Regions from separate parts of the Homo sapiens genome. Here region 1 is linked to region 2. The links come from fine-mapping of genetic effects on gene expression. A gene starts in region 2. The other region holds a variant in brackets. All regions are shown on one strand. Distances are from middle to middle.

What was found.
Region 1: its variant is fine-mapped to the expression of ECE1 in whole blood (TOPMed, PIP above 0.99).

What each region holds. Positions count from the first base shown.
Region 1 is chr1:21,322,901-21,328,360 of GRCh38, reverse strand. It overlaps a transcript of ECE1 not described here. Among named protein-coding and RNA genes, the nearest start is that of ECE1-AS1, 32 kb to the right of the region's middle. RefSeq lists enhancers at 163-721, 4,084-4,644. The variant ATG/G (reference allele first, on the strand shown) is at 3,331.
Region 2 is chr1:21,287,676-21,292,675 of GRCh38, reverse strand. It overlaps ECE1 (endothelin converting enzyme 1), which reads left to right and starts at 2,213. Exons shown (of 19, transcript NM_001397.3): 1 at 2,213-2,312; 2 at 2,520-2,606. The coding sequence starts at 2,262. RefSeq lists silencers at 2,132-2,311, 2,362-2,531 and an enhancer at 3,208-3,769.

The DNA of each region.
Region 1 (5,460 bases), 35 kb before region 2:
ATGGTTAGCAAGCAGGCATGGTCTTGGACAGTTGCACAGATCTCTAACTATAAGCAGGTTGCTATGGGAGTTTATGTCAGAGGAGCCATCCCTGGCAGAGAGCAGGAGCAGGGAAGACATCCCTGAGGAAGAAGGATTTGAGAAGAGATCTGAAAGATGTGTTAAGTGTTAACCAGGCAAATAAATGGAGAGAAAAAGAGTCTAGGCTGTGAGAACAGCATGTGCAAAGGTCCTGGGGTGAGTGACCTATAGCAGCAATCTCCAACCTTTTTGGTGCCAGGCTTCGTGGAAGACAATTTTTCCATGGACAGGGTGTGAAGAATGGTTTCCCTTATGAGAATCTAACTAAGCCCGATGATCTGAGGTACATGAAACTGTTCCACCTCAGTTCATGTTAGTTAGATTCATCACCTTAGTTAGATTCTCATAGATTCTCATAGGAATGCACAGCCTAGATCCCTCGCACGTGCAGTTCACAATAGGGTTCGCGCTCCTACGAGAATCTAATGCCACCGCTGATCTGACCGAAGGCAGAGCTCAGGCGGTAATGTCCACCCACAGCTCACCTCCTGCTGTGCGGCCCGGTTCCTAACAGGCCATGGACTGGTACTGGTCTGAGGCCCGGGGGGCTGGGGACCCCAGCTGTGTAGCTGGAGTAGAGAGGAAGGGTGAAGCTGAAGGGTGGTCAGGGCTGGGTCCCGCAGGGCCGTGCAGACCAGGTGAGGCTTTATTTTCCTCTATACCAAAAGACTCCATTTGTGCCCTCAAAGTAAGAAAAGGCAAAAATGTGTAACAAGCAGGGTGGAGGTCTCCCGGTTCTCGAAGGGGTGTCAGCAGGGAGCTAAGATGATCCAACTTGACTTGAGTGGGGAGGGCAAGAGTGGCATCAGAAAATGGTGGTGGCTTTGCCCAGGCCAGTGGTAGTGGTGAGGGAGAGGCAGACAGAGAAACTGAGTAGAGTGGGCAGGGCCTGGTGATTGATTGGAGTGGGGCAGGGGATCAGCCCGTCGCTTTGACAAATGAGAAAACAGAGCCCAGAAAGGTTGCATGAGCCACCGGAGTCACACAGTCCAAGCGTTAGAGCCAGACGCTAAGCTGGAGCCTCCCATCCCAGGGCCTTCCAGCCAAACATGGACTCCAGGCCCCAGATTCCTGGCAGCTGCTCTGGCAGAGTCCCTCTTCCCAGTCTCCTGGTGGCTTCGTCCCTCCCCATGCCCTGCTGCCTGCAGAGTCTGGCAGCTTCAAGGGAGTGGGGTGCTTTGAAGCATCTACAGGGAGGGCAGTGCTGTGACCTCCAAATTCTTTCCATGTGACCTATGCGACCCCAGCGAGACCAGGGCCCTCAGGACCCTGCCCTCCCCAGGCTTTGACGGAGTCCACAGAGGTGGGGTTTAGGGGCCAGAGCCACTGTGCAAACACAGCCCCTTGCTGGGGAGCGGGGGTGTTTCCAGGGACCCGAGCTGATGCCCTGTCATGAAGAGAAAGGAGACGCAGGGGCCAAAGGCTGGGGAGACCCTCTCTGTGCTCAGTGGGGTCTCCCCAGCAGCGGGGAGCTGCTTCCCCATCCAGGCTCCGTAACTGCAGGCTGCTGGCTGCTGTCTTAGGATTTCTGTTTTCTTCCCTGATGTCACCCCAGTTGGCACCTAAGACCTCTGAGATGCTGCTCAGTTAAATGGATTCTTAGCTCTGCAGGCCTCGCCCCACCTCCCTACGCTGCTCCAAACCATCCCCCTCCTGAAACCAGAAATATAACCCCCCTATTATGAACCTCATCTCCTCGAACCTGAGCCCCTATTTTCCTTAAGATTTGGATCTCTCTTTGGGGTTCAGGCCCCCCTTTTTTCTCACTAGGTTCTAGGACCTGCTTCCTGCTTAGGCACCTTCTTCTCCCTGGACCCCTTCTTCACCCTTAGACCCTGGACCTGGGTCTGATCCCTCTCTGGGGACTGGAGGCTCTGCTGTCTTAGAGACCAGCACCCCCGACACACACACCCCACGGTCTCCCAGGTTTCTCTAACCCCCAGGGGCTTCACCCTTCTCAGCTTGACACACAGTAGGCACTCAAGAGACAAGCTTGATCCTGCCACCCCTTCTCCCAGCCCTCCCCATTTGTGGCCCCTCCTGTACCTCCCCACCCTCCCCCGCATGGGTATTTTTGCTCAGGGAGCTCGTGCTGTGTGGCAGCTGAGTCTGGGAAGCAGCTATTGTTGGCTGAGAACGTGGGGCGGCAGAAGGATGGGGGCTGAGAGGAGGCAGGAAACATGCTCATAGGTCCAGGCCCAGCCCCCTGGTCCCCACACCCCACTGGGTCCAGGTGAGGCCATTTTAGGACAAGTCAAAGAAAGCCCCCTTCCCACAGCCGGGAGCTCCGTTGTGGAAATCACTGCGCTAGGGGAAGCTGGCAGCAAGTTTGGAAACAAGGTGGCTGGCGAAAGTGCCACCGGCAGCTTCGGAGAGCAGCCGGGGCACCCCTTGAGCCTCTGGGTGGCGTCGGGACAGTAGGCAGGACTCCCTGTGTGTTGATGCTCTGCTGCCGCCCCTTCTCGTTGCTTCTCGTACCTGTTTCATGTCTGCTCCGTGGAGCAGGAGGTGGGAACCACAATTTATTGAGCATTAACTTTGAGCTAAGCTGTGTGCTGAGCAATGAATGCATTGACTCAATTCATACCTCAGTCAGCTCCAAGGAAGTGGGTCCTATTGTGTCCCCATTTAATAGGTGAGGAGGCTGAGGCTTGGTGAGGTGAGGTGACTCGGCCAAGGCCACACAACTCCTGACTCTGTTTTTGCAGGCTTCTGTAGAGCATCTGACTTCAAGGCTGAGTGTGTTTTGCTTGTGGCTGAAAAAGACCAGGGACAGCGAGGAGGGAGGAGGCCAGCAAAAGAGGATGAGAAGCCTGCATGGGGAGCAGGGAGTGCCCTTTCTGGTGTGGGGACAGGCAGCTGGAAGCAAATTTCAATCTGGATGAGGAACTGGCACTGTTCTGTCCTCTGGCCCCTCTTGCCCCTTAATTGTGACGTTACTTCTCACCGCTGAAGGGGAACCGCTCGAGACGCTGGCTTGTCCTGGCACCTGCCTTGAGCAGAAGCTCAGAGAAAGATGCATGGAGGGAAAGAGTGGGGAGCAGAAACAAGCCATCAGGTACCAGGTTGGTGGTCCTGGAGCCAGTTTATGGTTCATCTAGTCACAAGGGCCCCGTCTCTGTGTTTAGTGTCAGCTAATGAAGAAATTGAATCCAGTACACAAAATTGGATTTTGCAGTTTTGCAACCAGTCTCAACCCCCCTCTATTGTGTAACGTGTTTCTTTAGAGAAGGAAACCCACAACAAAAC[ATG/G]TGTGCTTTCCTCCTGGCGACCTCTGATACCTCCATTGAAGACATGGCTTAACGAGAACTGTTTTTCTCCTTCTTTCGTGATTTGTGACTTTTCTTGCAGGCTCCAGGTGGCAGTGAGTCAGCCATAAAGCTCGTTCAGGAAAGTCCAGAGGAATTTTTCTTCTGCATCAGGTTCAACTTGAGCAGTGCTGGGTGACGCCCAGTGACACACTCGGTTGGGGAAGGAGAGGCTGGCACACTCCACTAGCTGCTTATCTCTGCCACCTCCGCCTCCATTTGTCCCTGGCTTCCTGGGGCCCAGAGCCATCTCTGCCAGAGCAGGGAGGCCGATTAAGTGACCCGCGGGCTCCTTCTGCCTGACTCAGCTCAGCTCCAGCCCTCTCTGGGGAGAATGAGTCATTTTTTCAACCCTGAAATGTTTCTCTTCATGTGGGAAAGGGGCGGGGGTGGGGAGAGCCCCTCCTGGTCCTCTCCAAACTTGTTCCTCAGCTCTGAGGGACACTTCAGCCACAGACAAAGGGATTCTAGGGCAGCTCTGGAGAGGGCAGTCAGACCTGAAGTCAGTAAACCACAGCTGTGGCAGCCGTTGGAGTCTCCCTGGACAGAAGCACACTGGGCTGAGTGGGTGGAGTGTCCCTGTCAGTCCCGCACTGATGGATGGTTTCTCCCTTGGGGATGGGCCTCTGCCCCCTGCTTCCTCTGCCCACCCAGTTAAGAAGCTATATGAGCCCGGGTGTGGTGGTGCACATCTGTAGTCCCAGCTACTTGGGAGGCTGAGGCAAGAGGATCGCTTGAGCCCAGGAGGTCAAGGCTGCATGAGCTATGGTCGAGGCTGCATGGGCTATGGTCAAGGCCGCACTCCAGCTTGGGCAACAGAGTGAGACCTTGTCTCTTTAAAAACAAAACAGGCCGGGTGAAGTGGCTCATGCCTGTAATCCCAGCACTTTGGGAGGCTGAGGCAGGTGGATCACTTGAGGTCAGGAGTTTGAGGTCAGCCAGACCAACATGGCAAAAACCCATCTCTACTAAAAATACAAAAAAATTAGCCGGGCATGGTGGTGCATACCTGTAATCCCAGCTACTCAAGGAGGCTGAGGCAGGAAAATAGCTTGAAACCCGGGTGGTGGAGGTTGCAGTGAGCCGAGATTGCACCATTGCACTCCAGCCTGGGCAATGGAGTGAAACTATGTCTCAAAAAAAAAAAAAAAAGAAAGAAAATTGCCCCCATCTCCCATTTTCTGTCTCCCTTCACTACCTCATTGCTCCCCTTAGCCCCTCCCACAGTCTAACATGCTGCATATTTGATTTGTCTTATTTATTCTGTCTCCTACTAGCATATAAGTTTCATGAAGGCAAGGCTTATTTTATTTTATTTTATTTTATTTTATTTTATTTTTAGTTTTTTGGGACGGGGTGCCACTCCGTTACCCAAGCTGGAGTGCAGTGGCACAATCACAGCTCTTTGCAGTCTCGAACTCCCAGGCTCAGGTGATCCTCCCATCTCAGCCTTCCAAAGTGCTGGGGTTACAGGCATGAACACTGCACTTGGCCCAAAGGCAAGGATTTTGTCTGTTTTGTTTCCTGCTATATCTGTCGAGAACAGTGCTAACACGTAGTAGGCACACGATTTTAAAGAGGGTAAGAGGAAAATGAATGAGTGAATGGATGTGAGCCCCTGGCAGAGTATCCGGCCTGCAGTCAGGGCTATTGTGTATTTTGATCCATAACCCTCCCCCCGCCGGTTCCAGCTGTGTTGTTCTGGGAGGCTAGGGCCTTTCTCCACCTACGCCCTCAAGGTCAGCTTATCCACTCTTGAGGTTTCATGCTTAATTTTTATATTTGAGCTTCTCATACCAGTGTGTGAGATTGCCCTGGGGATCAGAGTAGGGTACTTGCATCATAAAATAAAAAGGTACTATTTTGGAGCAGAATGCAGAATTGGCATGAATTTTTGAGATTCAAAAGGAAATGAGACTTAAGCTTTTTTCACAGCTTTTAGCTGTGTCCTCAGTCCTGCCAGGGCACAGGTTGACTCTCCTCTGCCATGTGGGTGCTTTGGGAAAGTGTAAGCAGCCTTGTTTTTGGAAATGACCCCAACCCCTGAGCCCTGGGACCTGCCCTCCCTCCA
Region 2 (5,000 bases):
GAGCACCTACTCTGTGCCGGGTGATGGAGAGTCTCTGTTGGACAGGCCAGACAAGGTCCCAGCCCCAGTAAAGCTGTGGATTCTGGAGAGGGACAGAGACAGTGATGATAAAGACATGGAAACAAAACAGTCTGCAACAAGTACTGTAAAGGAAAACAAACAGGATGCTGTAACAGAGAATTTGGGGGACTGCTTAGGGTTCCTGGGACATTTGAGGAGCTGGTAGGCTGAGATCTGAAGTTGGAGCTGACCATGGGAAGAGTAGAGAGGAGGAAAAAATGTTCCAGATAGAGACAACAGCAGCTACAAAGGTCTTGGGGGAAGAAGAAACTTGTAGAAACTGAGGAGTTGTGTGAGGAGGTTGGTGGGGGAGGGGGCGCTGGCAGCACAAGATGAGGGCCCAGAGTGGGCAGGGGCCATGGGGCCTGGTGAAGGGTTTGGATTTCATTCCAGGACAGTGGAGGGTTTTTAAGCAAGGGAGTGGTAATATCAGAATTTTTTTTTATTTTATTTATTTACTCAGACAAGATCTTGTTGTGTCGTCCACGCTGGAGTGCAGTGGTGCAATCACAGCTCACTGTAGCCGCCACCTCCTGGCTTCAAGCGATTCTCCCACCTAAGCCTCCCAAGTAGCTGGGACTACAGGCGCATACCACCACGTCCTGCTAATTAAAAATATATAATATATAAATATATATATATATATTTTCTTTTTGTAGAGATGGGGTCCGTGTTGCCCAGGCTGGCCTAGAATTAGACTCAAGTGATCTCCTGCCTCAGCCTCCCAAAGTGCTGGGATTACAGGTGTGAACCACTGAACCCAGCCAGATTTCTGTGGTTTGTTTGTTTGAGATGGAGTCTCACTCTGTCACCCAGGCTAGAGTACAGTGGCACAATCTCAGCTCACTGCAACCTCGACCTCCTGGGTTCAAGCGATTCTTCTGCCTCAGCCTCCTGAGTAGCTAGGATTACAGATGCATGCCACCAGGCCCAGCTGATTTTTTGTATTTTTAGTAGAGATGGGGTTTCATCATGTTGGCCAGGCTGGTCTTGAACTCCTGACCTCAAGTGATCTACCCAACTTGGCCTCCCAAAGTGTTGGGATTACAGGCGCGAGCGAGCCATGGTGCCTGGCCTCAGCCAGATTTCATTTTAAAGGCTCATCCTGGCTGCTGAGGGGGCTGTCAGAGGGCAGGAGTGGAAGCCAGGAGACCATCTGGAGCCATTGCCCTCACTGTCCCTGTGACGTCAGGCCCCTCACCCCTCTAAACCTGTTTATTCACACATATGTGTGACTGTGAGAATCAAATTTGGAATGAGCAGAAATGCACTTTGCAAAGCTGAAAAGTACGCATAAATGCAGGGATTCCCGCCTTGCTAGAAGCGGAGAGTCCTTTGGAAATCTGCTGGGTTAGACCTCTCTGGGGTTCTTGGTTGGGACAGTGCTGGGCCTGAGTCCCTAACTGAACACCTCATATCCGAGAGAGCCCCCTTTCCCTGCCTAGGGTTATAGGAGAGGGCTCAGGGGCTGGGGAGGGGGGCACCTGGCTGAGGCTCCGAGTCTTGAGGGGGAAGATGGGAAAGAAGGGTCCCCTTCCTGGCTTCTGACTCCCCCTGGAGCAATGGTTCTCTTGTGTTGCAGGGAGGGCGACACCTTTGAGCACGGGGGTGACCACCGGACCACCCTGCAGCCATCCAAATGCACACACACAGCTCCTTTCATCCCGTGTCAGGGAGTTCTCTGAAATTTTCTGAAACTCATTCACGAACTCTGGCTTAAAGGCCTCTGAGCTAGAAAGGGGAACTGAAAGGGGACACCTACCTTTTTACCCCACCTTTTTTGTCTGGTCTTTCTAGCATTAACCCCCTAGACACACCTAAGGGCTGATGCCGGGGGGAACCTGTCTTGATTGCTCTGGGCCACATCGAGGGCACCTTCCTGATACTTTTGTTATCTGCCACTGGGGACCCGGTTGTTGAAGGGGGACTTAAGATTTTCTCGAAGGAGGGGTCACTGTGAGGGCCTTTCCTGCCTGCTAGGGGCTTCAGTTTGGGGGCCCCCACTCCCGACCTCCGGGGAAGGGAGGGGTCCCCATCTCCCCCGGGCCTCTCGGGTCTTGGGGTCTCCCCGGGAGGCCGGAGGTTGGGAACCGGGCGCCGGCGAACCGATCAGGCCCCGCCCGCGAAGGTGGTGCAACGCCTGGCCCGGCCCATCCCATCCCGGCCACCCGGGCAGCGGGACCAGGCGTCTGGGGCACAGCATGCGGGGCGTGTGGCCGCCCCCGGTGTCCGCCCTGCTGTCGGCGCTGGGGGTGAGGCGGGCGCGGCCTGGAGGGCGGGGGCGGGAGGCGGGCGGGACCCCTCCCCGCGCGGGCCGCTCCGTGGGCCGGTCTCGGTCTCGGGTGTCCAGGCCGGGGCGGGGCGCGGCGGCGGCGGCGCCAGGGTCGGGGCCGCTTCCCCATTCGGGCGCGAGAGCCATGGAGGCGCTGAGGGAGTCCGTGCTGCATTTGGCCTTGCAGATGTCGACGTACAAGCGGGCCACGCTGGACGAGGAGGACCTGGTGGACTCGCTCTCCGAGGGCGACGCATACCCCAACGGCCTGCAGGTAGGCGCCCTCCGCTCCCTCCCGAGGTCCAGGCGCCCCGGGCCCGGGCATGCGCGCTGCCGCTGCCGCGCCCCCCGCCCCTACCTACCCCGCCTCTTCCCCTCCCTTCCCCTCCCTCGTCCCGGCATCCGGGAGGGGCCGCGCCTCCCCGCAGCTGGAGCTCCGCGCTGAGAAGCCTTCCGGAGCCCACCAGTCTCCCCTCACCTGCCCCCGCCATCCCTAGAGCCTCCCGGCCACCTGCTTCTGGGGCCACAGCCCAGGTGGCAGAGTTGAAAGCACCCCCGAGACCCGAACTGGTCCAGTTCCCTTTCCACAGAAGGCACAGTTTGTGCATGTCCCGGGACTTGCCCAGGCCCTTTACCGGCAGAGTCTACGGCTGTTTCTGTTTTAGCGTGGAAAGCCCTGCATCCCTGGAACCCACTCCCCCAGTCCGGGGCAAACTGGGAAAGTTGGTCACCTTATCCGGGAGGCAGTACCACCCTCTTCCTCTTGCCCTCCCAATACCTGAGTTTCCTGGGGCCAGAAACCTGTTCTCTGCCCCCTCTCCCTGCCCCTTTTCCAGCCTACTAAGGAAGTCCAATTCCTCCCCTCCCCAGGGTCTCCGCCCGTGGGCATCCCATCTGCCCACTCCTGGGGAGGGCCCCACCCCCGTCCCTGCCTTGTAACAGGACATTGAGCAAGGCTGCTTTCTGCCCTCCCGTCCCTGGGGGGCTGCACTGGGACAGTTGTGGCCAAGACCTCAGTGCTGGAGGGGTTTGGAGCCAGCCAGGTGCGTGGGAAGGTGCTGGAAACGCTGCGGACACCCTAGGAGACCCAGTGATCTGGCTCTTGAGAAGCCAGTGTAGAAAGAGGAGCTGGGGCACCCCAATTCTCGGAGGACTTCTGCCAGGTAGACCAAGGGAAGTATTTGGGAGAATCTTGGGGCCACTTGGTGAACTGGCACACAACTCTTCCCAAAGGCGAGCTTAGGATGAATGGACGCTTAGTTGCCAGGCCCACTCCACTCAGATACGCCTCTTAGAAGCGGGAATAATCCTCCCAGCGCAGGGAGACACCATTGATGGAGTTCCTCCTCCAGGGTCACATAGGCCCAGGGGACCCAAACTCACAGTCCCAAGGGCTCTACCCACTGGGATGTGTGGTACCCCTGCTTAACCTTCAGGAACACCCCTGAGACCTGTAGGGATTACTGTCCCCACTTACAGATGTGGAAACTGAGGCTCTGAGAGGGGCAACCACTGGCCTTCGGTCACCGAGCTAAAAATCCGAGAGCGACACGTCAAACCCTGTCTGTCTCAAACCTCTTCCCAGTGGACTCTTCTTAAGAGGCTGAAGCCAGCAGGAAATTAGATTTCTGGGGCAGGTGCTTTTCCCTTCTCAAATCAAAACAGAATCTAATCAGCAATGTTTTTCAGTCTCATCTTCCACAGAAGGGTCTAAATATATCAACACAAAAGCATTTCAGAATTCACAGCAAAGTAATAATGCCATGTTGCTGTTATCCTCACAGCAGCCTGTTTGGGGTATAACCTTTTTCAGATGAAATAGCACATTTCTCTGGGGAGGGCCCCCGGCCAAGCAGGAGGAGCCCCGTCTCTGAAGCCAGCGACCCGGGTTTGAGTTCTTACTCCACTCACGACCTTGGGCTAGTGGCTTAATCTCTTTCAGTGGTGATGGCCTCACTGTGAAATGGATGTTAGAGAAAGTGGATGTCATACATATTATATGCAGCCTGCTAGGATTATTGTTTTATGACCCATGAAGTAAGGGCTGGCGTGGCCACATTATTGATGATAAAGGTGAGGGACAAAGAGAGGTTAGAGACATTCCTGGGGTCACGTCGCTGTTGTCTATGGTTGGAGTTAGTGTCCTGTCCCCAAATGGATACATTTTCCACTTTCCTTGCAGGAAAAGGCAAAGAGGTTATGCAAGGATTTGGGGCATTTTTGTGGGTACCCAGCTTGGCTTGTGTGGTGTTGCCACAACTTCCCCAAAGTGAACATGAAGTAGCCAGTGCTTGCTTTTCTGAGTCAAGGACCCATTCATCTCCATTTATGAGGCAGAGTATTCTATTAATTGAATGTTTTCAATCATTGTTTTTTTTTTTTTCCCCAGTGTAAAAGCTTTATATGCTCACTTGGGGGAGAAAAAAAGATAGTCAAGTATAAAAAGGAATTAAAAACGGAGCAGTAATCCTGCCACTTGGAGATAACGGTTTCTAGTTTTTCACACTTGTATGTATGTATTTTTAAACATAGTTGAGCTCACTGTAAATACACAATGTTATATCCCGCATTTTTCATTCAGCATCTTCTACATTGTCAGAAACTTCCGAAACATGCTGCCATTAAAAATCATAACACCTCATGGTACCAACATATAAAAATATATTTA